Homo sapiens: one gene and its partners. The protein of the gene in region 2 interacts with the protein of the main gene of each other region in a pairwise test. Each region holds a gene or a part of one and is shown on either strand. Other genes may lie near its edges. The genes, in order: USP54, FNDC3B, MVP and ABHD11.

What was found.
Region 1: the proteins of FNDC3B (region 2) and USP54 interact in binary tests that used the Homo sapiens proteins (3 or more experiments, as listed by UniProt).
Region 3: the proteins of FNDC3B (region 2) and MVP interact in binary tests that used the Homo sapiens proteins (3 or more experiments, as listed by UniProt).
Region 4: the proteins of FNDC3B (region 2) and ABHD11 interact in binary tests that used the Homo sapiens proteins (3 or more experiments, as listed by UniProt).

The regions. Positions count from the first base shown.
Region 1 is NC_000010.11:73,511,325-73,518,347, reverse strand, and holds part of USP54 (ubiquitin carboxyl-terminal hydrolase 54), read left to right. Parts: intron 1-600; coding exon 601-1,973; intron 1,974-7,023.
Region 2 is NC_000003.12:172,343,568-172,350,590, forward strand, and holds part of FNDC3B (fibronectin type III domain-containing protein 3B), read left to right. Parts: intron 1-518; coding exon 519-691; intron 692-2,759; coding exon 2,760-2,873; intron 2,874-3,644; coding exon 3,645-3,794; intron 3,795-7,023. UniProt on the Homo sapiens protein: May be a positive regulator of adipogenesis.
Region 3 is NC_000016.10:29,830,455-29,837,477, forward strand, and holds part of MVP (major vault protein), read left to right. Parts: intron 1-19; exon of another isoform or gene 20-60; 5' UTR 61-95; coding exon 96-220; intron 221-423; coding exon 424-619; intron 620-3,278; coding exon 3,279-3,402; intron 3,403-3,480; coding exon 3,481-3,612; intron 3,613-5,249; coding exon 5,250-5,344; intron 5,345-6,267; coding exon 6,268-6,504; intron 6,505-7,023. UniProt on the Homo sapiens protein: Required for normal vault structure. Vaults are multi-subunit structures that may act as scaffolds for proteins involved in signal transduction. Vaults may also play a role in nucleo-cytoplasmic transport.
Region 4 is NC_000007.14:73,735,791-73,743,529, forward strand, and holds ABHD11 (sn-1-specific diacylglycerol lipase ABHD11), read right to left. Parts: upstream 3,013-7,739; 5' UTR 3,008-3,012; coding exon of another isoform or gene 2,981-3,007; coding exon 2,856-2,980; intron 2,674-2,855; coding exon 2,538-2,673; intron 2,353-2,537; coding exon of another isoform or gene 1,946-2,352; coding exon 1,772-1,945; intron 1,602-1,771; coding exon 1,431-1,601; exon of another isoform or gene 1,321-1,430; coding exon 1,139-1,320; intron 902-1,138; coding exon 769-901; 3' UTR 304-768; downstream 1-303. UniProt on the Homo sapiens protein: Catalyzes the hydrolysis of diacylglycerol in vitro and may function as a key regulator in lipid metabolism, namely by regulating the intracellular levels of diacylglycerol. 1,2-diacyl-sn-glycerols are the preferred substrate over 1,3-diacyl-sn-glycerols.

The DNA of each region.
Region 1 (7,023 bases), on a different chromosome or scaffold from region 2:
TTTGGGGAAACATCTCAGTGACTAATAGAACAAAATCCAGATTATAAAAACATATTTGAAATGGTTAATTTCTGTGTATTCCCATGAGCCCAAATCACCCTGTATTTTGTAAATGTGGCCTCATAGTTCCTTTGGCCGGGCTGCCTCTCAGGACCCCAGGTAGGACTTGCCTCCCTGTATAGCATCCTGGATTTTTGCTGTTTGGTATGAGTGATTTTCAGGCTTTGCTTACCTTCCATGTCATCTGCATGTGAGACTAGCTGATTTTGTTTCCTAATTTGCAAGTAGAATGTGATTGGAATGCGACTTCACAGGTAGTGAAGAATATTGGCAAGGGCTCCACTTAATGTTACTGTGCAACTTTGGTGAGGGTGTTTAATAAAGAGGATTAACGTTACCTATTTACCTGAGTGTGAGCTGACCATGTGCCTTTTCTTTTGTGATCCTCTGAACTACTGACTCTACTTGTGCTTGTCTTTCTGTTTATTTTTACCATTCCCTGTGTGAATAGCTAGAAATGGGAATGGAATGTTGAGTTCTTTCTGTAAGTGTTCCTGTCAGTCAAGGCAGCTTATGACTAGCTCTCTCCATTTGTTTCAGTGAACAGCCTATCCCGCTCCAAGTATTGTTAAGCCAAGAGGCCCAACTGGAATCCGGCATGGATACAGAGTTTGGGGCCAGTTCTTTCTTCCATTCACCTGCTTCCTGCCATGAGTCACACTCATCACTATCTCCAGAGTCATCTGCCCCACAGCACAGCTCCCCCAGTAGATCTGCCTTGAAGCTTCTGACTTCGGTTGAAGTAGACAACATTGAACCCTCTGCATTCCACAGGCAAGGTTTACCTAAAGCACCAGGGTGGACTGAGAAGAATTCTCATCATAGTTGGGAGCCATTGGATGCCCCAGAGGGTAAGCTGCAAGGCTCTAGGTGTGACAACAGCAGTTGCAGCAAGCTCCCTCCACAAGAAGGAAGAGGCATTGCTCAAGAACAGCTGTTCCAAGAAAAGAAGGATCCTGCTAACCCCTCCCCGGTGATGCCTGGAATAGCCACCTCTGAGAGGGGTGATGAACACAGCCTAGGCTGTAGTCCTTCAAATTCATCAGCTCAGCCCAGCCTTCCCCTGTATAGAACCTGCCACCCCATAATGCCTGTTGCTTCTTCATTTGTGCTTCACTGTCCTGATCCTGTGCAGAAAACTAACCAATGCCTCCAAGGCCAAAGCCTCAAAACTTCATTGACTTTAAAAGTGGACAGAGGCAGTGAGGAGACCTATAGGCCAGAGTTTCCCAGCACAAAGGGGCTTGTCCGTTCTCTGGCTGAGCAGTTCCAGAGGATGCAGGGTGTCTCCATGAGGGATAGTACAGGTTTCAAGGATAGAAGTTTGTCAGGTAGTCTAAGGAAGAACTCTTCCCCTTCTGATTCTAAGCCTCCTTTCTCACAGGGTCAAGAGAAAGGCCACTGGCCATGGGCAAAGCAACAATCCTCTCTGGAGGGTGGGGATAGACCACTTTCCTGGGAAGAGTCCACTGAACATTCTTCTCTTGCCTTAAACTCTGGGCTGCCTAATGGTGAAACTTCTAGCGGAGGACAGCCCAGGTTGGCAGAGCCAGACATATACCAAGAGAAGCTGTCCCAAGTGAGAGATGTTAGGTCTAAGGATCTGGGCAGCAGTACTGACTTGGGGACTTCCTTGCCTTTGGATTCCTGGGTGAATATCACAAGGTTCTGTGATTCTCAGCTTAAGCATGGGGCACCTAGGCCAGGAATGAAGTCCTCCCCTCATGATTCCCATACGTGTGTAACCTATCCAGAGAGAAATCACATCCTTTTGCATCCACATTGGAACCAAGACACAGAGCAGGAGACCTCAGAATTGGAGTCTCTGTATCAGGCCAGTCTTCAGGCTTCTCAAGCTGGCTGTTCTGGATGGGGGCAGCAGGATACCGCCTGGCACCCACTTAGCCAAACAGGTAAGAATGCAACCAGGGGTTGGGGGGAGGGGGGAGGATCATATAAAAGCTGAAAGCAGGGAAAGATCAGAAGGGAGTGTTCTATACAGATACTATCCCCAGCTTAGTAGGAGGTAATAGAACTTTTGACTTTACTCAGAAAGCCTTCAGGACAAGACCTAGACATTTTTCTGGCTAGAGTGGAGGAAGGGGCAGAATTACCACTCATAGGCAACTTCCCTCCTTCTAAAGTAAGAGATTACTAAGTATTTGCCCATGGCTTCTCCAGTATGCTGTGCTAAAGAATGGTTCAGGGCCGGGCACGGTGGCTCACTCCTGTAATCCCAGCACTTTGGGAGGTCGAGGCGGGCAGATCACAAGGTCAGGAGATCGAGACCATCCTGGCCAACATAGTGAAACCCCTTCTCTACTAAAAATACAGAAAATTAGCCGGGCGTGGTGGTACTTGCCTGTAGTCCCAGCTACTCGGGAGGCTGAGGCAGGGAAATCACTTGAATTCGGGAGGCAGAGGTTACAGTGAGCTGAGATCGCACCACTGCACTCCAACCTGGGTAACAGAATGAGACTCCGTTTCAAAAAAAAAAAAAAAAAAAGAATGGTTCATAGGTGTTTGAGAGTGATTCAGCATGACAGCATGAAATGGAGGGAGGCTGAGAGGAAAATATATTCTTCTATGGCTTAGAATCCCAAGATTCAGCCTCCAGGTCTGCTTTGCAGTAGGATGTCCATATGCTCAGTGTGGACATTTCCAGATCATACTGAACCAGCAATATCAAGACCTTCCTGATCCCTTTAGGAAAAGTCAAGTTTGGTGTTCAAGGAATTTTTAATGTACTATATGCCTACAGGGTAGCCACTGACTGAGATAATACAGAGTGAAGAGTAGAGCCTGCACCTGAAGTGCACATCATAGTCAGTTCTGGAAATTGAAGACATGAAGAATGTTTGTAACTTACATTGATGCACTTAACTCCAAAGCCTGAACTATTTTCCTGATTCCAACATTAACTCTCAGTATAAATTTGGACAAGTCACTTAATATCCCAGGGCCAAGGTTTTACCTGTAAAATGAGAGAACTGGCTTTTTTTTTAAAAAAAGATATGTTCTAACTCTAAAATGGCATGTATGATTCTGTGAAATTGAACTTGGAGAACTTTTCCTTAGCTTGGCTGTGACAGTTTCTGTAATGGTGCAGGTTCCTTGCATGCTGACAACCAACATATAATTACAGTTGAGTAAGTGTTTATTGAGTACTTACTGTGTTCTCCAGAGCCTTTGAGGGGAATACCACATAAATATAAGATTTGATTTTTTATTCATTTTTTTTTTTTTCTGAGAAGAGTTGCACTCCTGTTGCCCAGGCTGGAGTGCAATGGCGTGATCTCAGCTCACTGCAACCTCCGCCTCCCGGGTTCAAGTGATTCTCCTGCCTCAGCCTCCCAAGTAGCTGAGATTACAGGCGTCCACCACCACACCTGGCTAACTCTTGTATTTTTAGTAGAGACAGGGTTTCACCACGTTGGCCAGGCTGGTCTTGAACTCCTGACCTCAGGTGATCCCCCCGCCTCAGCCTCCCAAAGTGCTGGGATTAAAGGTGTGAGCCACCGTGCCTGTCCTAAGACTTGATATTAAGATACATTTCTGAGGATCCGTATCCTAATGTAGATTTTACAATAACATTTACTAAGGTGGTCTTTGATAGGACTGGTTGATATGGGAAGAATCTAAAGAATAAGGGAAAGCTGGAGTCTGCCTCAGTGAGCTTTCTATCTAAGGAAGCAAGAATACACAAATAATTTTTTTTTTTTTTTGAGACAGAGTCTCGCTCTGTTGCCCAGGCTGGAGTGCAGTGACGTGATCTCAGCTCACTGCAACCTCTGCCTCCTGGGTTCAGGCCACTTCTCCTGCCTCAGCCTCCCGAGTAGCTGGGATTACAGGTGTGTGCCACCACGCCCAGCTAATTTTTATATTTTTAGTAGAGATGGGGTTCACCATGTTGGCCAGGCTCATCTCGAAGCCCTAACCTCAAGTGATCCACTCGCCTTGGCCTCCCAAAGTGCAGGGATTATACACGTGAGCCACCGTGCCAGGCCACAAGTAATTATTTTAAGAATAATAAGGCCAGGCATGGTGGCTCATGCCTGTAATCCCAGCACTTGGGAGGCGGAGGTGGGCGGATCATGAGGTCAGGAGATTGAGACCATCCTGGCTAACATGATGAAACCCCGTCTCTACTAAAAATACACACAAAAAAATTAGCTGGGCACGGTGGCCCACACCTGTGATCCCAGCATTTTGGGAGGCCGAGGCAGGTGGATCACCCAAGGTCAGGAGTTCAAGACCAGCCTGGCCAACATGGTGAGACCCTGTCTCTATTATAAATACAAAAAATTAGCTGGGCATGGTGGCGGGCACCTGTAATCCCAGCTATTTGGGGGGCTGATGGCAGGAGAATTGCTTGAACCCAGGAGGTGGAGGTTGCAGTGAACTGAGATTGTGCCACTGCATTCTAACCTGGGCGACAGACCAAGACTCTATCTCAAAACCAAAAACAAAAAAAAATTTGTATTACCCAAAATAGCAACATTTTTCATTGCAGGTAGTTTGAAAATACATAAAGTATCAAAAATCACTGATAATCTCACTCTTAATGTTTTCATAAGCTTACCTTTGGTTTTCATTTTTATACACATGTACTATATAGTTTTGTTTTTGCAAAAAGCAGTATCCTTTACACTATATGTATACAGTTTAGTATCATGACTTTCTCATGTTATATCTGTGAGCATTTGCTGTAAAAACTACCTTTAATGGTTATAAAGTGTTTCATATGAATGTACTGTAATTTATTTCTTCAACCATCCTACTATTGTTGAATATTTAGGTTACTTACAATTTTTTTTTTTTTTTTGAGGCAGTCTCGCTCTGTCATCCAGGCTGGAGTACAGTTGCACAACCTTGGCTCACTGCAACCTCCGCCTCCCGGGTTCAAGCAATTCTTCTGCCTCAGCCTCCCGAGTAGCTGGAACCATAGGCGTGTGCCACCAAGCCTGGCTAATTTTTTGTATTTTTAGTAGAGAAGGGGTTTCACCATGTTGGCCAGGCTGGTCTCGAACTCCTGGCCTCAAGTAATCCGCCTGCGTCAGCCTCCCAAAGTGCTGGGACTATAAAGTGAGAAGTGACTATAAGGTGAGCCACCGCTCCTGGCTTACTTGTAATTTTTAATAACATAGTACTGTGTTGAATATCTTTGCACTTAAGTGGTCACGTTTCTCATGAGCTCCTTAGAATAACCTTTTAGAAGACTAATAACTAGTTGAATGTTATAAACTTTTTTTTTTTCATTTTTGAGACAGGGTCTCATGTTGTTGTCTTGGCTGGAGTGCAGTGACATGATCACAGCTCACTGTAGCCTTGACCTTCTTGGCTCAAGAGATCCTCCCACCTCAGCCCCTTGAGTAGTTGGGACTACAGGCATGCACTACCATACCTGACTAATTTGAATGTTATAAACTTAAAAAAAATATTGATACATACTGGCCAGTTAGCTTTGAAGAAGACTATACTTCTGAAAACAGTATGAAAGAGTACTTACTGACCATTAATTTTTTTGTCTAGTAGTGTAAAGAAACAAATTTTTAAAAATCTATCTAGTAGTCAATCTATTCTCAATATATTTATCAAATCAAGCGGAGCATGATGACTCATGCCTGTAACCCCAGCTACTTGGGAGACTGAGGCAGGAAAATCACTTGAGGCCAGGAGCTTCAGGCTGTAGTGTGCTATGAGCACATGCCTGTGAACAGCCACTCTCCTCCAGCCTGGGCAACACAGTGAGACCCTATCTCTTAAAAAAAAAAAGTAAAATCAAACTAGTCTTTATTTTTGTTAGAGTCCTTGGTTTAAAAACTGAGTCCTTAAGAAGTGACATGACAGGCTGGGTGCAGTGGCTCACACCTGTAATACCAGCACTTTGAGAAGCCAAGGTGTGAGGATCACTTGAGCCCAGGAGTTCAAGACCAGCTGGGCAACACAGTAAGATCCCCATCTCTACAAAGACTGAGAAAATTAGCTGGGTGTGGTGGTGCGGGTCAGTAGTCCAGCTACTTGGGAGGCTGAAGCAGGAGGATCAACTGAGACTGGGAGGTTGAGGCTGCGGCGAGCTGTGGTCATGCTACTGCGCTCCAGCCTGAGCAACAGAACAAGACCCTGTCTCAAAAAAAAGAGGAGTGATATGACATAGAATAAAGAAGTGATCAGATAGAATTAATTGGGAAGTAGATGAAGGAAAATGCCAATTAGGATTCACATATGAAAAAATATAATTTGGCCAGGTGCGGTGGCTCACGCCTGTAATCCCAGCACTTTGGGAGGCTGAGTCGGGTGGATCACCTGAGGTCAGGAGTTCGAGACCAGCCTGACCAACGTGGTGAAACCCCATCTCTACTAAAAATACAAAAAAAATTAGCCGGGTATTGTGGCACGTGCCTGTAATCCCAGCTACTCGGGAGGCTGAGGCAGGAGAATTGCTTGAACCCAGGAGATGGAGGTTGCAGTGAGCCGAGATCACGCCACTGCACTCCAGCCTGGGTGACAAGAGTGAAACTGTCTCAAAAAAAAAAAAGAAAAAATATAATTTGAGAGTTCTTTATCTTATTGTAAAACATTTATTAAGCACCAAATTACATTACTTTTTAAAATTTATTTATTTTTTGAGACAGAGTCTCGCTCTGTTGCCCAGGCTGGAGTGCAGTGGCACAACCTCAGCTCACTGCAACCTCCGTCTCCCAGGTTCAAGCGATTCTCGTGCTTCAGCCTCCCAAGTAGCTGGGATTACAGGCATGTGCCACCACACCTGACTAATTTTTGTATATTTTGTAGAGACGGGGTTTCACCATGTTGCCCAGGCTGGTCTCAAACTCTGAGCTCAAGCAATCCACCTGCCTCAGCTTCCCAAAGTGCTGGGATTACAGGTGTGAGCCACCACGCCCGGCCACCAAATTAGTTTTTCAAAAAATGCTAAAAAAAAAAAAATGCTTTATTGATATG
Region 2 (7,023 bases):
TTTTACAGCATTGATTTAAGCTGTATTAGCGTTTCCTGTTGTGTCCAGCAGTTTACAACATGTATAATTACAAGTACAAATGTACAGAACTCTCTAGCAGACTATTTTTTCCTACCACTTATGTCTAAAGTATAATAAATTGTGCCAATTTGGGGTCCTGTATTTTGATTTAGCATGACCTTTGGTTTCCAATTAAAGAGATTTTTCTTCCCTCTTTTTCTTCCATTTACCTAGCATTAGAATATGAAGAAATATATCTAATGTTCCTATAATTTTGGGATTATTTTATCAATGTAATTAAATAAACTTCAGTGGACCCGCTTTGGAGAGTATGGATAACATCATTCAGAAACTTTTATTTTTATATCTCTTTTTTGGTGGGCATGGATTCTTTTGTAAGGGAGATACTGAGGCCGGCCACCTATGTGATATTTTGCTCAACTTGTGTGAAATCTGGTGCACTTTGGTCAACTGGAAGCACAAAGTGTTCTAAGATGAAAAAAATTCTTCATTCCCAGATGTTCCTGCATCGGAAAGTGGCTGTGAGGTCTCAGAGTACAGCGTGGAGATGACGGAGCCCGAAGACGTAGCCTCGGAAGTGTACCATGGCCCAGAGCTGGAGTGCACCGTCGGCAACCTGCTTCCTGGAACCGTGTATCGCTTCCGGGTGAGGGCTCTGAATGATGGAGGGGTGAGTATAAGCCCATACACCATAACCAGAATCAGAATGCATAATCAGAACCCAAAGTGCTAGCACTTCTGTCTCTAGCCTCCTGAAATTTTTGACAGTCTTGATGCAACCTTGACAACCATTAATGCAGTGTCTGTAAATCTTAATTCTGAGTTGATATTGTTGTGATTTCATATAGACCCAGCATTAGAAGTTTTCTGTTTCTTTTGTCCTCATATCATTCTATGAAGACAGCACTCAAGGTTAATAAGGATATCACCCTGTAGATATTTTCGACAGTTTTTGGAAAATTTCCTATTCTATTGACTTTATCAGTTCAGGGAAATTAGGATTAGATAATAGTTCTAATAAAAGTTTTATACTGTCTTGTCTAAATGAACCAGCAACATCTTAGGTCAGTTTTTACAACTAGAGAAGGGTAGTGGCCAGGGACACCAGCTTGTTTTTGTTTTGTTTCACGTGAAAACTACAGGACTCTCTCCTTCTATTGCTCCATTTGGAGTTGTCAAGTTGAGCTATCAAAAATTGAGAATATATATGTCTATGTTATATCCATAAAGGTTGTTGTCCTTTTTTTCTTTGAAATTGCCAAATGATGTGGATTTAGGGGGAGATGAATAATGAGCAGTGGGAGTCCCAGTAACTGTGAGGCTTTTGGGTGGGCTCAGAGATTGATGAAGCATAAAAGGGCAGAAGCGTGTGGGTAAAGCCAGCTAAATGCCCCGTCCAAAGTGCCAGTGGTTTGTGTAGATGGGCTCCATGCAAATAAATAGAATTAATTAATTGATGATTTTTTAAAAAAATAAGACAGCCCAACTTGCAGTGACTTTTTGTTTTAAGTGAAAGCAAGTTTATTAAGAAAGTAAAGGAATAAAAGAAGGGCTATTCCTTAGGCAGAGTGCCCAAAACTGGATTTCTCCTAATTCTCCAATAGAAAAGAATTTCAGACACAACAATGATACTTAAGTGAAAACAAAAAAGTCTGAACATTAACGCCTATGTACCTGAACTTATAATCATGTAAGCGAAAAGAAGATGGATAGTGATGAGCACACTGTTGTGTCTACCCCATTCTCTCATCAACTTTTCAGTTACTATCTGCCACAACAAAGATAAATGTGCAACTGGGCTGGTGTGAGCTGTACTTTTCTCAGCCCTTTCACTGATTTATCCTATAAAGAAACTATCTTCAGCTTGGGTTTATTCCTGTTGTATTAGAAATTAACCATATATATCGCTGTAGTCACCTTCTGAGGTCCATTTCAGAGAGCTTCCCCAACTCCCCAGCATCTTTGCATGTTATGTTGAGAGGTGGTTTTTTGTTTCCCCCCTCCCCGCCGTCTTTTTTCTCTCATTTTGACAAGGACAGTCATATATTTTGTTAGCCTGGCAAGTTTTTACTCTGCTCCAAACCTTTGAAGTATCAAATATGCCACCATTAAAATGGGTGGTTCAGGTGGCTGTGACTCTCTCAAAGTGTGGTAAGTCTCTAGCAATTCCTGGCTCTGAGCAGTGTGGTCACTGATGGTAACATCAGGATTGCCGTGGATACCCTTGAATAGGTGAGGTGATGGGAACACACTGAGAAAACATTACAGAAGCATTTATTTTCAAAATGGAAAATACCGGTAACTAGAAGAAATACCTAGAATTTGATCACCAACAATTCCAAGTATATTTTTATTCATTAAAAATTAAACTGCAGTGGGCATCTGACTTAGTTTTCTTGGATGTCCTCTGAGAAATATGAAAGCAGATTGCCCTGTTTTGTCAAAAATCAGCATATTTTTATTTCATGTCCCAAGAAAGGGAAAATATTTTGTCAACCAACTAATTATTTTACAATTAAAAAAATGACAGACATCTACTACTCAGGGACTGTATATAGGAGAAAAACTTACACACATTGAATTGAAAGTGAAAATCATTGGGTAATATTTGTTAATTAGTTGTGTTGATGATGATGTTAGCCTAGCTTTTATTTGGTTATAAGCTTTTGTATGCACACACATTCACAAACACATACACGCATATATACATACGTGTGTGTGCGTGTGTTTTCTTTCAGTATGGTCCCTATTCTGATGTCTCAGAAATTACCACTGCTGCAGGGCCTCCTGGACAATGCAAAGCACCTTGTATTTCTTGTACACCTGATGGATGTGTCTTAGTGGGTTGGGAGGTAAGTCAGGCATATTCTGCATCAACTTCTGTTTCTTCTACTTTACTCCCAAATACAAATACCAATTATAAGGAAGCTGCAAATCCAAAATGCACATATAGATGATTTTTTTTTTTTTTTTGCTCTGTGTACTATAGTAATCACCCTTGGCACTTGCCACTTGCTTATATTATTTAGGGTTGTGGAAGTTTTACTGTAGTCAAAACTGAGAGGAAATGGTTTCTCATGCCTTTCTTTTTGTAAAAAATTTTATTTTATTTTACTTATTTTATTTTTTTGTGTGACAGAGTTTCAATCTTGTCACCCAGGCTGGAGGGCAGTGGCACAATCTCGGCTCACTGCAACCTCTGCCTCCCTGGTTCAAGTGATTCTCCTGCCTCAGCCTCCTGAGTAGCTGGGATTACAGGTGCCCACCACCATGCCTGGCTAGTTTTTGTACTTTTAGTAGAGATAGGGTTTCACTGTGTTGGCCAGGCTGGTCTCGAACTCCTTATCTTAGGCAATCCACCCACCTCAGCCTCCCAAAGTGCTGGGATTACAGGCATGAGCCGCCGCACCTGGCCCTATTTTATTTTTAAATTTCTAAATCTCAAAAAAAATTTTGTGGGTACATAGTAGGTATATATATTTGTGATCGTGCCTTTCTTTTATATGTATTTGAAATATTCTGGGGCATGTTGCTCTCTTTCCCATTTTAGTTAATTGAATACAAGCACAGTAGGATTCTCTTCTCAGTGGCATTATTAACTACTTCCATTTCTGCCTTTCCAGAGTCCTGATAGTTCTGGTGCTGACATCTCAGAGTACAGGTTGGAATGGGGAGAAGATGAAGAATCCTTAGAACTCATTTATCATGGGACAGACACCCGTTTTGAAATAAGAGACCTGTTGCCTGCTGCACAGTATTGCTGTAGACTACAGGTAGGTTGACATTATTCAGATGTTACTCACAAGGACTGCTGTCCCATGAAAGGCACTTTGGGAAACCCACTCAAAGGCTTGTGGTGGAGGCTGTCAGGAGGGATGATATGGAAAAAAAGAGTCCATTTAAATAAAAATATATTTGGTTGTTTTGGTGTTTTGCAGTTAATTTCCACTTCTCTAGGAAATTCTGAAACTTAAGAACAAAATAAGATTCTTCTCCATTCTGCTTCTCACCACCCTTGTATCTTGTCTGTTCATCAGTTTGCTGAATAAATGACCCAAGTCCAAGGGAAAGATGACACAGCTCCTTAGGGAAGGAGCCTTCTGTCTCATTCCCCTGAGATGTACATTTCAGTGGGAAAGACTCTTAGAACTGGTAAAAGACAGAAAATTATTTTACGAGCTGTTAAATGGAGCCAAAAATAATCTGGACTAGTCTGCATTAGATTACAGGACCCCACCTCCCACCTCCCAGTGACGGTTATCAAGGCTGGTTATCTATAAGCTTCCACTTGGGAGTCCAGATAGAATAACATCAAGAAAAATTGGTTCATAGCCTAACCCCTCAGAGTGACAATAACCATGGGTTTACTTTTATTTTACTCTCTTGGCTATATTATTATTTTTTCTGTGTAAAGCCTTAGTCTCTTGAGAAAATAGAGTTCTTTGTCCTCCTCTTTCCATTTGTTCAGTAACATTTCTTGAGCATTATAGTACTTTGTACCAGGATCAAAGGAAGATCAGGAAGAGAGATACAAAGATTAATCAGATGTGGTTGTTGACCTTGAAGAGCTCTGTCTTCATACACATTTAGATTTGAATAGATAAAGAAGCAAAGATGCCAAAGTCAAGTTCCCACCTGATTTAAGTCATGGATCAAATTCGTTATTATAAGTACACCCAATGTCTCTGGTCTCTTTGGAGAAAATATTCGCTTCATAACTTAATTTTTCAGATCAACTGAAGCATTTCTGTTAAATTCAGAAGTCTGCTGTATTTGAAACATTTCTGATTAAACTCTTTTGTTATACACCTTTCTTGCTTCTCGAATGAAGCACCTGGGACATAATTAACCTTTTGACAATGAGTCAGTGTCACAGCAAATTGTCTGATATTTATAATAGTGATGCTGAGTCACTGGGGAAAGGTTAAATTATGTGCCACACTCTTGTTTTTCTACCAAGGCAGGATATAAATAAAGAGCTGTCTGCCACCCCAGTAAAGAGCTTCACTCCATTATGGTTTTTGAGTTTTGGTGTTTCTTTAAAATGTTATTATATCTCCTTCTCTTTCAGAGTCTATGTTGTCTTAGCATTGACTTCCCAAAGCTGCATTATAAAAGATACATTAATAAGAATAGTACCTGCATAATCTTGCCTCGTTGTATTAACAGGAGTAGAAATATATTTTCAAAGGTCTGTGCTTATTTATAATAAAATGAGTCAGATCTTATGAAGGGAGTACTACTTTTAAGATTACCATTGCCACACTAAAGGACTATTGCCAGGAAGGGGGTCTGTTCAAACTATACCAATTTATTGTTATTTGTGGACCAAATATGAATTATTTTCATTCAACATGATTACAAAGTCAAGTTAAACCCCAATATTTTTTGAATATATGGCACTTAAGAATTTAAATATTGGCCGGGCATGGGGGCTCACACTTGTAATCCCAGCACTGTAGGAGGCTGAGGCCGGCTGATCTCTTGAGCCAGGAGATAGAGACTAGCCTGGACAACATAACAAAACCCCTCCTCTACAAAAAAAAAAAATACAAAAATTAGCCAGGCATCTGTAGTCCCAGCTGCTCAGGAGCCTGAGGCAGGAGGATCACTTGAGCCAGGTCAAGGCTGTAGTGACCTGTGACTGCACCACTGTAGGCCAGCGTGGGCGACAGAGTGAGAGCCTGTCTCAAAAAAATAAAAATTTATTATAATACCTGTACTGTGTTTTATAGAAATGTGGTGGAACATTTCTTGTTTTGCTCAGGAATTTTTGAATTTTTGTATTTTCAGGACTGTTTTAATTAAGTACCAACGTAATTCCATTCATAGGGCATGTTGTATATTATAGGCATACTATTATTTACAAAAAGTTGATTTTGAATTAAATTTCATTTGAAAACTGTTAATAAAAAGTGGTGTAAATCAAGAAATGTTTTCCATAGAGCCAAGCTAGTTAAAAAGAAAGTAGGATCCTGCAGTAGAAAAAGAACATTGGAAGAATTGGTAAGATTCTGATTAGGTCTGTATGTTAATAGTATAGTATCAGTGATAATGTTTTTCTTTTCTTTTTTTTCTTTTTTTTGAGATGGAGTCACGCTCTGTCACCCAGGCTGGAGTGCAGTGGCGCGATCTTGGCTCACTGCAACCTCCGCTTCACAGGTTCAAGCGATTCTCCTGTCTCAGCCTCCCGAGTAGCCGGGATTACAGGCGCCTGCCACCACGCCTGACTAATTTTTGTATTTTTAGTAGAGATGGGGTTTCACCAGGTTGGCCAGGCTGGTCTCGAACTCCCGACCTCAGATGATCCACCCGCCTCAGCCTCGCAAAGTGCTGGGATTCCAGGTGTGAGCCACCGTGCCCGGCCACCAGTGATAATTTCCTGGTTTTGATCATTATTCTATAGTTCTGTAACATGTTTCTCTTCGGAAAAGCAGAGTAGGAGATAGACAGAAATTTCTCTGTACTATTTTTGCAACTTTTCTGTAAGTATAAAAGTAGTACACAATAAAAAGGTGTTTGAAAAAATAGAGAAAATACTATTTTGTTCATAATTTTCCCAGTGGGAAGGAAGAAAGTGTAGCTCCTACTGTTGGCCTGATACTCTGCCAGCATTTTACATATTAACCGATTTAATCTTTACTGTAATTCTATGAATTAGGCATTACTGTCCCCATTTTACAGCTGAGGAAACAAGCTCAGAGAAATTAACTAACCTAAGATCACACAGTTGTTAAATGATGGAATCAAGGTTTGAACTAAGCTTCAACTCTTAAAAGCCATGTTCTTGTCCTTCTGTGATATGGTGATACAAAGCCCTAGTTGATAGAAACATTGGGCTCCATGATATCCTATTTTTCTGCCCCTGTGATACATTTATATCAGTACCAAAATCTCGAAATACATACTTATAAAATAATTTGTCATGTTAAAATTTTTCCAGAAAGAGAGTTGAGGTATTGAGGTATTGTAATGAAACAGAAGTGGGTATGACAAAATGTT
Region 3 (7,023 bases), on a different chromosome or scaffold from region 2:
CATGCCTGCCCCACCCCAGGCTCCCCAGGTTCATCCTGTGTCGTCTCCCCCACCTACCAGTCATCTTCTTGTGAGCCCTGGGCTTAGGAGTCACCATGGCAACTGAAGAGTTCATCATCCGCATCCCCCCATACCACTATATCCATGTGCTGGACCAGAACAGCAACGTGTCCCGTGTGGAGGTCGGGCCAAAGACCTACATCCGGCAGGACAATGAGAGGTGGGTGTGGGGGCTGGGCTGTGGGGGATCCTTGGGGATGTGGGGGCCTGTTTGGCTGGCATGATGGTCCTTATCCTCCTCCCTCTTCCCAAGCAGGAGTGGCCCTCGCTTGGGCGATAGAGAGGTTTCTCTCTCATTTGGTGTCCTCTTTGGTAGTGGAGACCTGGTCCCAGGTCCTCACACCTCTTCTCATCTTCCTGCAGGGTACTGTTTGCCCCCATGCGCATGGTGACCGTCCCCCCACGTCACTACTGCACAGTGGCCAACCCTGTGTCTCGGGATGCCCAGGGCTTGGTGCTGTTTGATGTCACAGGGCAAGTTCGGCTTCGCCACGCTGACCTCGAGATCCGGCTGGCCCAGGACCCCTTCCCCCTGTACCCAGGGGAGGTGCTGGAAAAGGTACCTGGTTTCCTCACTCCCTATGCCCCACCCTACCTGTCCTCCACCTGCCTTGGGCTCTATACTGCTGCCTTCTTCTTCTTTTTTTCTTTTCTTTTTTGAGGCAGAGTTTCACTCTTGTCGCCCAGGCTGGAGTGCAGTGGCATAATCTCGGCTCACTGGAAGCTCCACCTGGGTTCAAGTGATTTTCCTGCCTCAGCTTCCTCAGTAGCTGGGATTACAGGCACCCGCCACCACGCCCGGCTAATTTTTGTATTTTTAGTAGAGACAGGGTTTCACCATGTTGGCCAGTCTGATCTCAAACTCCCGACCCCAGGTGATCCACCTGCCTCGGCCTCCCAAAGTGCTGGGATTACAGGCATGAGCCACTGTTCCCGGCCTGTACCGAGTTCTAAAGGGAAAACAAACCAGGGCAGTGGGAGGGGTGGGGAGAGACACTTGCTGGCTCTCACCAAGGGTGGAATTGACTCACTGTACCTCCACTCACCTCCAGCCACCCCCATCCTCCACACATGCCCCAAACACACCTGCCTCTTTTCTGAGAACTGTTGGCCCATCTCACCTTCCCAGGCTCCAGAGCCTACCAGAAGTGCCCAGCCAGTCTGGCATTAAATGACATGTGCCAAGGTTAAGCAGTTCATTCACCCGGTGCCAGACACTGGTGGGCAGTGCCAAAGCAGCAGTGACAAGCCCAGGCCCCAGGCTGTGCCTGTTCTAGGAGAAGCCATCACAGGCCTGAACCTACAGCCAGGCTCTTGTCCCCGTTGGCCTCAGGCCTGGGCCTGAGCAGGTGGGTGTCCCACCTTCATTCCTTTACCTGTTCTTCCACCTTTACCTTCTGGCCATTTAATGGTTTTGGGTTTTTTGTTTGTTTGTTTGTTTGTTTTTAATAGAGACGGGGTTTCACCGTGTTAGCCAGGATGGTCTTGATCTCCTGACCTCATGATCCGCCCGCCTCGGCCTCCCAAAGTGCTGGGATTACAGGCATGAGCCACCGTGTCCAGCCCCATTTAATGGTTTTCTTACTGACTTTACTAACCAGTGCTGCTTGATCCTGAAAGCATAATAGCAGAACATGGGGAACTTTTAGAGACATTCATGTCCACTTAGGTGCAGACAGTTTGGGGGAAGAAGTGTGTGTGTAGAGAGAAAATGAAGAATGATTAAGACAATAACCCTTAAGGAATCCAAGTGAAAAGTATATAGGGATTCTTGTACCTTTTTTTTTTTTTTTTTTTTTTTGAGATGGAGTCTCACTCTGTTGCCCAGGCTGGAGTACAGTGGCATAATCTCGGCTAACTGGAAGCTCTGCCTCCCAGGTTCACGCAATTCTCCTGCCTCAGCCTCCCGAGTAGCTGGGACTACAGGCGCCCACCACCACACCCGGCTAACTTTTTGTGTTTTTAGTAGAGATGGGGTTTCACCGTGTTAGCCAGGGTGGTCTCGATCTCCTGACGTCATGATCCACCTGCCTTGGCCTCCCAAAGTGCTGGGATTACAGGCGTGAGCCACCGCGCCTGGCCTTTTTTTTTTTTTTTTTTTCTGGATCTCCCCCTGTTGCCTAGACGAGAGTGCAGTGGGGTGATCATAGCTCACTGCAGCCTCAACCTCCTGGGCTCAAACGATCCTTCCACCTCATTCTCCCAAAATGCTGGGATTGCAGGTGTGAGCCACCAAGCCCTGCCTAAGCTTTCATTTTAAATATGTTCAGCCGGGCACAGTGGCTCACGCCTGTAATCCCAGCACTTTGGGAGGCCAAGGTAGGCAGATCACTTGAGGTCAGGAGTTTGAGACCAGGCTGGCCAACATGGCGAAAACCCATCTCTACTAAACATACAACAATTAGCCAGGCGTGGTGGCATGCGCCTGTAATCCCAGCTACTTGGGAGGCTGAGGCATGAGAATTACTTGAACCTGGGAGGCGGAGATTGCAGTGAGCTGAGATTGCGCCACTGCGCTCCAGCCTGGGTGACAGAGCAAGACTCTGTCTCAAAAAAAAAAAAAAAAATTAGCTGGGGGTGGTGACACACCTGTAATCCCAGCCACTCAGGAGGCTGAGACAGAAGGATCACATGAGCCTGGGAGATTGAGACTGTTGTGAGCCATGGTTGTACCACTGCAGTCCAGCCTGGATGACATAGGAAGACCCCATCTCCAAAAATAAAAAAAAGCCAGCTCTTCCTTTGAGCCCCAGTTTCAGTTCAAAGGGCCTTCTCTAACTTCTCCTTCATCTGAACTCCTGAGACAGGGTCTTGCTCTGCTGCCCAGGCTGAAGTGCAGTGGTGCAGTCATAGCTCACTGAAGCCTTAACCTCCTGGGCTCAAGTGATCCTCCCACCTCAGCCTCCCGAGTAGCTGGGACTACAGGTGTGCGCCGCCACCATGCCTGGCTACACTTTTTTTTTTTTTTTTTTTTTTTAGAGATGGGATCTTGCTATGTTGCCCAGGCTGGTTCTTGAATGTCTGAGGTCAAGCAATCCTCCTACCTCAGTCTCCCAAAGTTCTGGGATGACAGGTGTGAGCCACTGTGCCCGGCCTCCACCCCAGTCTTATTTCAGGACATACAGAGATGGATGTTGTGGACCCGCCTCCAGAGCATCAGGCTTGGCCCTGGGGTCACAGCACTGATGGTTCTGTGTCTCCACCTTCTTCCCCACTAGGACATCACACCCCTGCAGGTGGTTCTGCCCAACACTGCCCTCCATCTAAAGGCGCTGCTTGATTTTGAGGATAAAGATGGAGACAAGGTGGTGGCAGGAGATGAGTGGCTTTTCGAGGGACCTGGTAAGTTCTGTCTCCATAGGGCTCCCTGCCTTCCTGTCATAGCCCTGATACCTTCTGACCATCACCTTCCCTCCCCAGGCACGTACATCCCCCGGAAGGAAGTGGAGGTCGTGGAGATCATTCAGGCCACCATCATCAGGCAGAACCAGGCTCTGCGGCTCAGGGCCCGCAAGGAGTGCTGGGACCGGGACGGCAAGGAGAGGGTGACAGGTGGGGTCACCAAGGGGCGATGATGGTGGGTGGGCAGGAGGGGTCCCCACTGCAGGGGAAGCAGGGGAAGGTTGAGGAAAGCCTCCTGTAGCCCCAGAGAGGCGCTTTCCTGGTATCTTTTGAAAGCTGTTGAGGGCCACCCACTGCTCTTCCTTCCCCACCCCCGCTTCATGCTGTTTCCACTTGGGCTGGAAAATGTGACCATGACCATGCGGATGTGGCTTTTCCTTCCCTCACCTTCACCATGAGCTGTGGGCAGTGGCCATGACTTACCTGATTCTGGATCAACAAAGAAGATGTTCAAATACAATTGACAAATGTAGGCCAATAGGTACAGTGGCTCACACCTGTCATCCCAGCACTTTGCCAAGGTGGGTGAATCGTCTGAGCCCAGGAGCTTAAGACCAGCCTGAGCAACACAGTGAGACCCCATCTCTACAGAGAATTTAAAAATTAGCCTGGCCTTGGACACACACCTGTGGTCCCAGCTACTCAGAAGGCTGAAGGGGGAGAATTTCTTGAGCCCAGGATGTGGAGGCTGCAGTGAGCTGTGACTGCACCACTGCACTCCATCCTGGGCCACAGAGGTACTACCCCGAGGTGCTACCATTCCCACTTTTTTTTTTTTTTTGAGACGGAGTCTTGCTTTCTTGCTGTTGCCCAGGTTGGAGTGCAGTGGCGCGATCTCGGCTCACTGCAAGCTCCGCCTCCTGGGTTCACACCATTCTCCTGCCTCAGCCTCCTGAGTAGCTGGGACTACAGGCGCCCACCACCATGCCCAGCTAATTTTTTTTTTTTTTGTATTTTTTTTTTTTTTTTTTTTAGTAGAGACAGGGTTTCACCATGTTAGCCAGGGTGGTCTTGATCTCCTGACCTCGTGATCCACCAGGTTCGGCCTCCCAAAGTGCTGGGATTACAGGCGTGAACCACCGCACCCGGCCATTCCCACTTTCTATATATCAAAACTGGGATGCAGAATGCAGGTTGCTTGCCCTGGGGTGTGGCCAGGCAGGGCGAGGCTGGGACCTGCATCCAGGCACTCTGGCTTCTCCAGTAAACCAAAGGACATCCACAACTCTAACAGAGGCAGTTCTGCTGCCTGTTTTAGCAGAAGGACAAAAGTTGGTCTTTGGAGCTTAGAGAAGGCAGAACAGGCTGTTGGCATAGCAGCAACTTGGGCATCTTAGGAGGCCAAGGTGGGCGGATCACTTGAGGCCAGGAGTTCCAGACTAGCTTGGGCAACATGGTGAAACACCATCTCTACAAAAAATACAAATATTAGCCGGGCGTGGTGGCACGTGCCTGTAATCCCAGCTACTCAGGAGGCTGAGGCATGAGAATCACTTGAATCCAGGAGGCTGAGGTTGCAGTGAGCTGAGATCACAGCCTGGGCAACAGAGGGAGACTCCGTCTCAAAAAAAAAAAAAAAAAAAAAAAAACTTTTAAAATTCAACTGGGGTGGGGGTTTGGCCTCAAAAGAATGAATAAGAGGACCGCAGTCAGGAACTTGAGCCTGGGGTCAGTGCTATCTTTTTGCCTATGAAATCTGTCAATCCCCTGTGTCTAAGCTGTGGGGGAGGGGTAGGTGGGGAGCAGGCTGGGGGGCCCTTGTCCCTTACCCTCCACTCTTGGCCCAGGGGAAGAATGGCTGGTCACCACAGTAGGGGCGTACCTCCCAGCGGTGTTTGAGGAGGTTCTGGATTTGGTGGACGCCGTCATCCTTACGGAAAAGGTTGGTGCTCTGGGGGCTGTGGTTTAAGGGACCTGGGGCTAGGGAACCCTCCGAGTGGCAGAGAATGGTGGTAGAATGGCATGAGAGTAAAAGAGAAGCAATAATTTTAGGGTCACTTAAAAAAATTCAGAGATCAGATTGCCTGAGTATTCTGGATCATCTGAAGGGTTAAATAGTCTTTCTGGGGCTGGGCGCAATGACTCACATCTGTAATCTCAGCAATTTGGAAGGCTGAGGCAGGAGGATCACTTGAGGCCAGGAGTCTGAGACCAGCCTGGGCAACACAGTGAGAACTCATCGCTACAAAAAATTTAAAAATTAGCTGGGTGTAGTGGAGCATGCCTGTAATTCCAGTTACTCCAGAGGCGCTGAGGCAGGAGAATCGCTTGAACCCCAGAGGCAGAGGTTACAGTGAGCCATGATCATGCCACTGTGCTCCAGCCTGGGCAACAGAGCGAAACCCTGTCTCAAAAAAAAAAAAAAAAAACAAAGCCGGTCGGGTGCAGTGGCTCATGCCTGTAATCCTAGCATTTTGGGAGGCTGAGGTGGGAGGATCACCTGAGGTCAGGAGTTCAAGACAAACCTGGCCAACATGGCGAAACCCCATCTCTACTAAAAATACAAAAATTAGCTGGGCATGGTGTCACCCACCTGTAATCCCAGCTGTACTCAGGAGGCTGAGGCAGGAGAATCGCTTGAACCTAGGAGGCGGAAGTTGCAGTGAGCTGAGATCGCACCTTTGCACTCTAGCCTGGGCAACAAGAGAGAGACTCCGATTTAAAAAAAAAAAAAAACAATCCCTGGATTGGTAGAAATTGTCTCTGAGATCTGGGAGCATTGGGAGCATTTGGTGGCCAATGGGGCTCGCAGATCCCCTGAAGTTGGAGGCAGGTCACTCAAATACCCAACATGTTGCTCTGCAGACAGCCCTGCACCTCCGGGCTCGGCGGAACTTCCGGGACTTCAGGGGAGTGTCCCGCCGCACTGGGGAGGAGTGGCTGGTAACAGTGCAGGACACAGAGGCCCACGTGCCAGATGTCCACGAGGAGGTGCTGGGGGTTGTGCCCATCACCACCCTGGGCCCCCACAACTACTGCGTGATTCTCGACCCTGTCGGACCGGATGGCAAGAATCAGCTGGGGCAGAAGCGCGTGGTCAAGGTGAGGTCCCTACACCCCCACAGAGGACTGCCCTGGGAGATGTATGTCCTCTAGTGGCATGAGGCCCTCTGCCTTCTCTCCTCCAGACGCACGTTCTAGGAACACCTTCTGTGCCTTTGCATGCTTAGTTCTTACACACCTGAGACACTGGCCCATTTGATTCCTGGCAGCCTCTGACTTACCCCTCAGACCTGAAGTTAATTCCCCTTCTGGGAAGGCCTCCTGGCTACCCGCTGCCTGAGACTCTGAAACTCTGATACAGTCATGCGCCACTTAATGATGGGGATACATTCTGAGAAATAGTCCTTAGATGATTTTGTCTTTGTGCAAAAGAGTGCACTTATGCAAACCTAGATGGCACCTAGTCTAGATGGCGTAGCCTGCCCCTAGGCTGCCAACCTGTGCAGCATGTGACTGTCCTGAATACTGCAGGCAGCTGAACACAATGGCAAGTACTTGTGTATCTAGCCATAGAAAAGGTAAGGTAAAAATACAATATAAAAGCTTCGTTATAGGCCA
Region 4 (7,739 bases), on a different chromosome or scaffold from region 2:
GCTGCTGGAGGTCCTGGAGGAGAAACTGAGGCTGAGGCGGGAGCTGGAGGCCTGGGAGGTAGGGGAATGCCATCAGGGCCTGGGAGGTGTGGGGAAAGAGGGCACAGGCTCAGCCTTGAACCTGCTCTCCTGTCCACAGGAGGACGTGCAGCAGCTGGTGTGGCAGCAGGTCCAGAATCAGCTGCAGAGAGAGGCCAAGGGTACTCGGGGAGCCCACGTGGACCCTGGAGCTGCCAGCACCCCCCGATCCAGATTCTCCCTGGGTCGGGGACGTTGGTGGTGACACAGACCTCAGCCCAGGACTTTGGGAGTAGTGTCTTTATTCATTAAAGCCTGAGGTCTGACCACCCCTGTAAAACCTCGTGCCCACACAGTGCCTGTCTGAGTCCTTCTGTGCCCAAATGTGGAGCAGGCTGCAGAGACTTGAAGCCTGGGGTTTTGTGCCTCCTTTTTGTTTTGTTTTTTTTGAGACAGAGTCTTGCTCTGTTGCCTAGGCTGGAGTGTAGTGGTGTGATCTCGGCTCATTGCAACCTCTGCCTCCAGGGTTCAAGTGATTCTCCTGCCTCAGCCTCCAGAGTAGCTGGGATTACAGGTGTGCACCACCACGCCAGGCTAATTTTTGTATTTTTAGTAGAGACAGGGTTTCACCATGTTGGCCAGGCTGGTCTCCAACTCCTGGCCTCAAGTCATCCTCCCGCCTTAGCCTCCCAAAGTGCTGGAATTACAGGCATGAGCCACCACGCCCGGCCATCTTCTTGCCAGCAACTCTTAGACCAGGAAGCCTCGGATGGCAGCTATGAAGTCCTGTGGGCGGTCAGCGTGGATCCAGTGGCCAGCGTTCGGCACCGTCTGCATCTGGGCCCGAGGGAAGAGCCGCATAATCTCAGGGTGGTGGCTGGGACTGTGCATCGCAGCGACGGCCATCAAAAACGGGTGAAAGTGGGATGAGGAGGAGTGAAAGAGACACGTGGAAGCAGAACGGGGAGAAATGGAGAGAGCTGTGTGAGCCCATATGCCCGGTGGTATTTCTGGCCTCTCAGCCACCCCCCTTCCACACCCAAGGCCTCCCCTGGTAGGGTCCCCAGGCTGGGGCCTGGGCGAGTAAAGCATGCCCCTCCTACTACCCAGGCTAGCTTACTGCACGAACTGGGAGTTTCCACCAAGGAGAAAGAGTGTTGGCCCGAGGTAGGACTCCTGCCTCTGTGGGAAAGCCAAGATCTTGTCTAGGTGCTGGGTCAGGGCATCCAAGTTCACCCTCCACACGAAGCGCCCGTCTACCTCTACCAGGTTAGTGAGCAGGTGCTGCCGCACGGCCATGTCCTGTGGGGGTGCAGCAGTTGGGGGAGGTTCCTTGTGCGGTCTGGGGGTGCCACTCTTCCCTTGACAGGTCCTGGTCTACAATACCATCCGGGGCACCTTGGGTGTATCACCTGGATGACAGAACTGAGCTGTTCATCCGCCAGTTTTCGGGCACGGGAGCGGGGCAGCTCATCTGCGATGTTGATGGCCCTCATGGCTGCCACATAGGTTGCAAAGTGGGAGACACCTGTGCTTTCCACTGGGCTGATATCTACAGCAATGAGACGTTCCACCAGCTCTGGCTGTGGGAGAGAACCGAACTGGGACCAGTCTTAGGCAGACATAGGGAGTCTCAGGCATGGCTCCTGGAGCCTGAACTTGGTCATCCAACGATCATGTGAGTCCCAGGTTGCCTGCAGGGCCCTCAGGGTATATACTGAATGGGAGGAGGCCCCAGACATGGGCGGCTCACCCTCTGTAGTGCCAGCAGCATGGCTGTCTTTCCTCCCATGCTGTGGCCAACGACGACGCAGGGCACCAGGCCCAGCTGGGGCAGAAGGTCCTGCAGGTCCTGGCTCATGATCTCGTAGCTCATGTCTGGGCTGTGGGGGCTGTCACCGTGGTTACGAGCATCCACCGTCAGCACCTGGGGAGTGGGGTGAGACGGGGCTGCGTTGATATCCCCATTCTGGGGGTAGACAGCCAAAGGCTTGTAGGGACAGCAGGTCAAAGGTGTGGAGAGCCTGGGGATACACCCTGTGGAGGGGAAGGGCCCAGTTTCCAGACCTAGGAGGCCCAGATGAAGAACCTGGGGCCACTCTGCCAGAGAAGAGCAGGCCCCAGGGTTGTGACCACGTCTCTGAAGGGCTGGCCTGGCTGGGTGGCAATCTCGGAGAATGCCAGGAAGGAGACTCCAGGAATTTCCAACAGTAGGAGCACAGAAGAATGGGCTGCCATAAGAGGTGGTGAGCTCCCGGTCATCCCTAGTGAACAAGCAGGCCCCTTCATGGAAAGGGTGCAGGCGCCTAGGCATGGGCCAGCCCCGATGGAGATCTACAACATGAATTAATGAAGATGGCAACGTGAGGGAATAAATGGGGTTGCCGTTCAGGGTCCATACTCAGAGTGAGGGATCTGGAAGTGAGCGTGAGAAGCGGGACCCCCCCTGCCCCGCCTCCTCTCAGGCCCCGCCCACTCCCGCCCAGCCCCAAAGGAGCCCCGCCCACTCGAAAGCTCACCCTACGGCCTGTCTGCTGGGCCAAGATCTTGGCGATGGAGTTGAAGTTAGTTTTGCTGCCGAAGAGCCCGTGCAAAAAGACGACGGCCGGGAGGGCTGCCTCCCCGTCCAGAAGCCTGTAGGAAAGCGGAAGCGGCCTGGCAGGGGAAGGATCGAGGTCAGAGTCTGAGCCGGCGGAGACGGGGAAAGGGGTAGGGGGAAAGAGCTTTGGGGGAGAGGCCTGGGAGGTGACAGGCCCAAAGGGAGGAGATGGGGCCGTCGGGGCCCGGCAGGAAAAGGAGGACAGAGGATGGCCTCCCGCCCGGTGCCCTTGACTGACCTCGGCTCGGCGCCCCCTCGGCCGCCGCTGCTGCTGCTGGGTGCGACAGGCACCCTCGCGAAGCTAGGGCCGTGGGGGCCGAGTCCCTCACGCGGGAGCCTCCAGGCTCGGGTCCAGCGGAGCATGCTTGCAAGCTGTTGGCCGGCTCGCATCTCACAAGGTACGTCCTCCCCGCGCTCCTTCTCCCGCCCTAGCTCGCAGCCCCGCCCATTTCCGTCTTCAGCCGCCCCGCCCAGTTCCGACTTGAGCCCCGCCCTCTCCCCGCCCCCATCGCGGGATTCTCCGCCCTTGGTCCCGTTTCCTTACGTATCCCCGAGAACAGTCCGGCCCCGCCTCCATCCCCGCCCCTTACGCCATTACGTAATCCCCGCAGGCTTTGCGCGGGTCGCCCTGAGCGCCGCACCTGGCCTCGCCCTAGGCTGGGCAACCCGCGGTGCTTGCCCCTCCCCTCGCGAAGCGCCGCGGTGCGTAGAATCTGGGAATTCGGTCTGCGCCGCTCTGTGCGTGCTCGGTTCTGGTTGCAGCTTAGGGCTCGGTTCCCGCCCCGCACCTGCCATCGCTCACTGACCTGGGTGGCTGCCATCGTTTCTGTGCCGCCGGCGGGGGCGAGCGGCGCCAGGGTGGCTCTGGGCGGCGGAGTGCCAGTGTGGTGGCGCCGTGCTCCACTGCCGGGGGCCCGGGCAGGTTGGGCGGAGCACGGACACCCACCCATCCTGGAGTCGTCGATCTAGAAGGAGCTCGGGGGCACTCTAGAGCTCTTCCCCAAGCCCCTTCGTCCCTTTTACGTTTGGGGAAGGCTCCCCCAGTCTGATCCCACCTGCTTTTCTGCCCATACTCCCCATTCTCATACTCCCCTATCAGGCACCCTGCCTTTCAAGGTCTTCTCCACACCCCACCTCCTGCTGGGGTGCTGTCTGTCTTCCAGATAGCCAGTTGCCCGAGTCCTATACTTTTTTTTGGTGGGGGTCTTACCCTCGCCCAGGCCGGAGTGCAGTGACGCGACCGTAGCTCACTGCAGCCTCGACCTCCTGGGCTCAAGCGATCCTCCCGCCTTTGCCTCCCGAGAATCTGGGACTACAGGCGCAGACTAATTTTAACATTTTTTTTTTTTTTTTTTTTTTTACTGAATCATGGTTACAATTTTTTTTTTTAGGCCGGGTGCGGTGGCTCACGCCTGTAATCCCGGCACTTTGGGAGGCTGAGGTGGGCAGATCACCTGAGGCCAGGAGTTGGAGACCACCCTGGCCAATATGGTGGAACCCCGTCTTTACTAAAAATACAAAAATTAGCTGGGCGTGGTGGCGGGTGCCTGTAATCCCAGCTACTCGGGAGGCTAAGGCAGGAGAGTCGCTTGAACTCAGGAGGCGGAGGTTGCAATGGGCGGAAATCATGCCACTGCACACCAGCCTACCGGACGGAGACAGACTCCGTTTAAAAAAAAAAAAAATTGCCGTGGGTGGTGGCACGGCCCTGTAATCCCAGCTACTGGGGAGGCTGAGGCAGGAGAATCGTGTGAACTTGGGAGATGGAGGTTGCAGTGAGCCGAGATCTTGCCACTGCATTCCAGCCTCAGTGACAGAGCGAGACTCCATCTCAAAAAAAAAATTTTTTTTTTAAAAAATAGAAGCGGGGGCTTGCTATGTTGCCCAGGCTGGTCTCGAACTCCTGGGCTCAAAGTGCTGAGATTACAGGCATGAGCCACCACACCTGGCCCAACAAAATTTTTTTTAGAGAAGGGGTCTTGCTACCTTGCCCAAGCTGGTCTCCAGCTCCTGGCCTCAAGCGACCTTCCTGTCTCAGGTATATGGCTTTTATTTTATTTTTTCTGAGACAGGGTTTCACTGCGTCACCCAGGCTGGACTGCAGTGGCACAATCACGGCTCACTGCAACCTCTTCCCCCTGGGCCCAGGCAATCTTCCTGCCTCACCCTCCCGAGTAGCTGGGACCACAGATGTGCACCACCATGTCTGGCTAATTTTTTTCTGTTTTGTAGAGATAGAGTCTTACTATGTTCTAGGCATAGCAAGGGGACAGTTTCAGGCTGGTCTGGAACTCCCAGACTCAACTGATCCTCCTGCCTCAGCCCCCTGAGTAGCTGGAATTACAGGTGTGCTCCACCATGCCTGGCCTCAGCTATAGGCCTTTTAAGGCATTGTATAACTGCTGCCTCCTCCTCAAGCCTTCGCAGACTTTCTGAGTTAAAACTAATCTCTTTCATGGAATGTTCTGGAAGCATTTCTCAGAGGCTACTGTGTAGTATTATAGAGGCAGCCCTCCCTGTGTGTCCACAGCGGGAGCTATGTCTTGTTCATCTGGTGCAAAGTGGTAATAGTCATCAAGAGCTTCAGGGCACTGGTAAATGCTTATGTGGAAGTCCTGCGGGTGGCTGGGTTAGTGGCCCTCCCGGATATGACACCTGGGCCAGCTAGTCTTACACTGACCCCTCCCCCACCTCCTTAGGGCGGTCCAGGACCTACAGGATGAGTCCTAACTTTTTTTTTAAAAAAATAATTAATTAATTAATTATTACTATTATATTTTGAGACGGAGTTTTGCTCTTGTTGCCCAGGCTGGAGTGCAATGGTGCGATCTTGGCTCACCGCAACCTCTACCTACTGGGTTCAAGCGACTCTCCTGCCTCAGCCTCCCGAGTAGCTGGGATTACAGGCATGCGCCACTACGCCGGCTAATTTTGTATTTTTAGTAGAGACGGGGTTTCTCCACGTTGGTCAGGCTGGTTCAAACTCCCGACCTCAGGTGATCTGCCCGCCTCGGCCTCCCAAAATGCTGGGATTACAGGTGTGAGCCACTGCGCCTGGCCATTAATTTTTTTTTTTTTTTGAGACAGGGTCTGGCTCTGTCATGGAGGCTGGAACCTGGCTCACTGCAACCTCTGCCTCCCGGGTTCAAGCAGTTCTCATGCCTCAGTCTCCCGAGTAGCTGGGACTACAGGCGCGCATCACCACACCTGGCTGATTTTTTTCTGTTTTTGGCAGAGACAGGATTTCACCATGCTGGCCAAGCTGAGGATGTGTCCTAACTCTGTAAAGCTCCATCTCCTGCTTAATGGGACCCTGAGGTGTTTGGTTCCAATCTGAGGAGGGCTGAGGTCACCGAGGACTCTAAGCACACCAGGTGGTGTGATCATGTTTCCCGCATAGTAATTAGGGGAGTGATGAGGACATCTGAGCCCTGTATGGGGGCTGGTCCCAGGCCTGGGAGGGGTCCTTGGAGAGTGTTTTTCTAGAGTTGGTGGGTGTTTTTCTAGAGTTGGTGGGTGTTTTTCTAGAGTTGGTGGGTGAAGGGCGTGGGGGTTGAAGATTCAGAACAATAGTATTTCAAAGGTGCTTTTTTTTGTTTGTTTGTTTTGAGAGAGTCTCTCTGTTGCCTATGCTGGAGTATAGTGGGACAATCTCAGCTCACTGCAACCTCTACCTCCCGGGTTCAAGCGATTCTCTTTTGCAGACTCCCAAGTAGCTGGGATTACATGTATGCGCCACCATGCCCGGCTAATTTTTGTATTTTTAGTAGAGACTGAGTTTCACCGTGTTGGGCAGGCTGATCTCAAACTCCTGACCTCAGGTGATCCTCCTGCCTCGACCTCCCAAAGTGCTGGGATTACAGGCATGAGCCACTGTGCCTGGCCTCAAAGGTGCTTTCAAATTGATCCCTGCCATACACCCCACCCTCCACCAGGTAATCTCAGCCTGGCCCAAGATCCCCACATCTAGGGGCAGAAGCAGCCTTGAGATATTTACTCAGAGTCCTGGGCCCCAGCCCTGATCAGGTGGCTGATGAAGGCAAGCAGAAAAACCAGTTGGTTTGATGTTTCCACTTGAACATTCCAGAGAAAGTGGTGGGGGCAGGGGAGGGGTCGTTGCTACCTGGGAATGGATCTGGGGGTGGTGTCATCCTGGGGGCTGCCCAGCCCTCTCAGCTTGTTAGGAACAGGCCAGGAAGCGTGCTGTTGGTTGGCGAAGGCCTCCTTCTAGGGGAGGCCAGAGGGGAGGACTTCCGGAGCCCCTGACATGTGGAGGTGAAGGTGGGAGGTGAAATGGACTATCGCTCTTTGGAGGTCGAGTGTACACTGCCCCATCCGTGTTCCCAGGCTTCCTGTGAAGTGGGAGGGTGCCGTCCTTATTCTGCTGATGAGGAAAGAGAGGCTTGGACGGCGAAGTAACCCAGCTCCAGGTCACTCAGCCAGTGCACAGCCCGGATTGTTTCCTTCACTGACTCCTAACGCAGTGCTCCGTGTATTTCATCACCACCCTTCAGGCCGTGGGGACCAAGGGCCGAAGGGGTGCGGCCTGAGGCGGCCGGGACACTGCGCCTAGGTGGCGCGGTGGCATTGAATGGGTTAAGGAGGGGAGGTGGCGGGTGTCCCTTAACTGCACCTGGCCCAGTATCGGTCACGTGGCCAGGGTTTCACCTGCCCCGCTGAGCAGGGACAATCAGGCTGCTTGTTTTGTGGCCGGTCGCCATGGTGACAGCAGCTTGCCAGGGGCGGTCATGGGGCAAATTCCTGCTGGCCAGCCGGGTGGGGCAGGAGTGTCAGCTGTGCTGGCACCAGTCGGGGCTTCCCGAAAGACCCCTGGAGCTTTCCCGTGGGGCTGTCCCTGGGGGGCCCCTATGTGACTCCGCTCGAAACCTCCTCCCATCTCAACCCCCACATCAGCCCAGCTTCTCTCCTCCCAGATTTTGAACCTGAGTTGATGTATTAAGCAGCCGGGATTTTCATATACGTTATTGTGTTTAATCCTCACACAGCAACCTTTCCCATGTGGGAATGGTAATCCCTGCAGGTCTGCTGCCGGCTGCGCCTCCCCTACTACTCACCCAACACTTTGAGAACACTGGCTCCTTCCTGCCTTGCTTCAACAAGC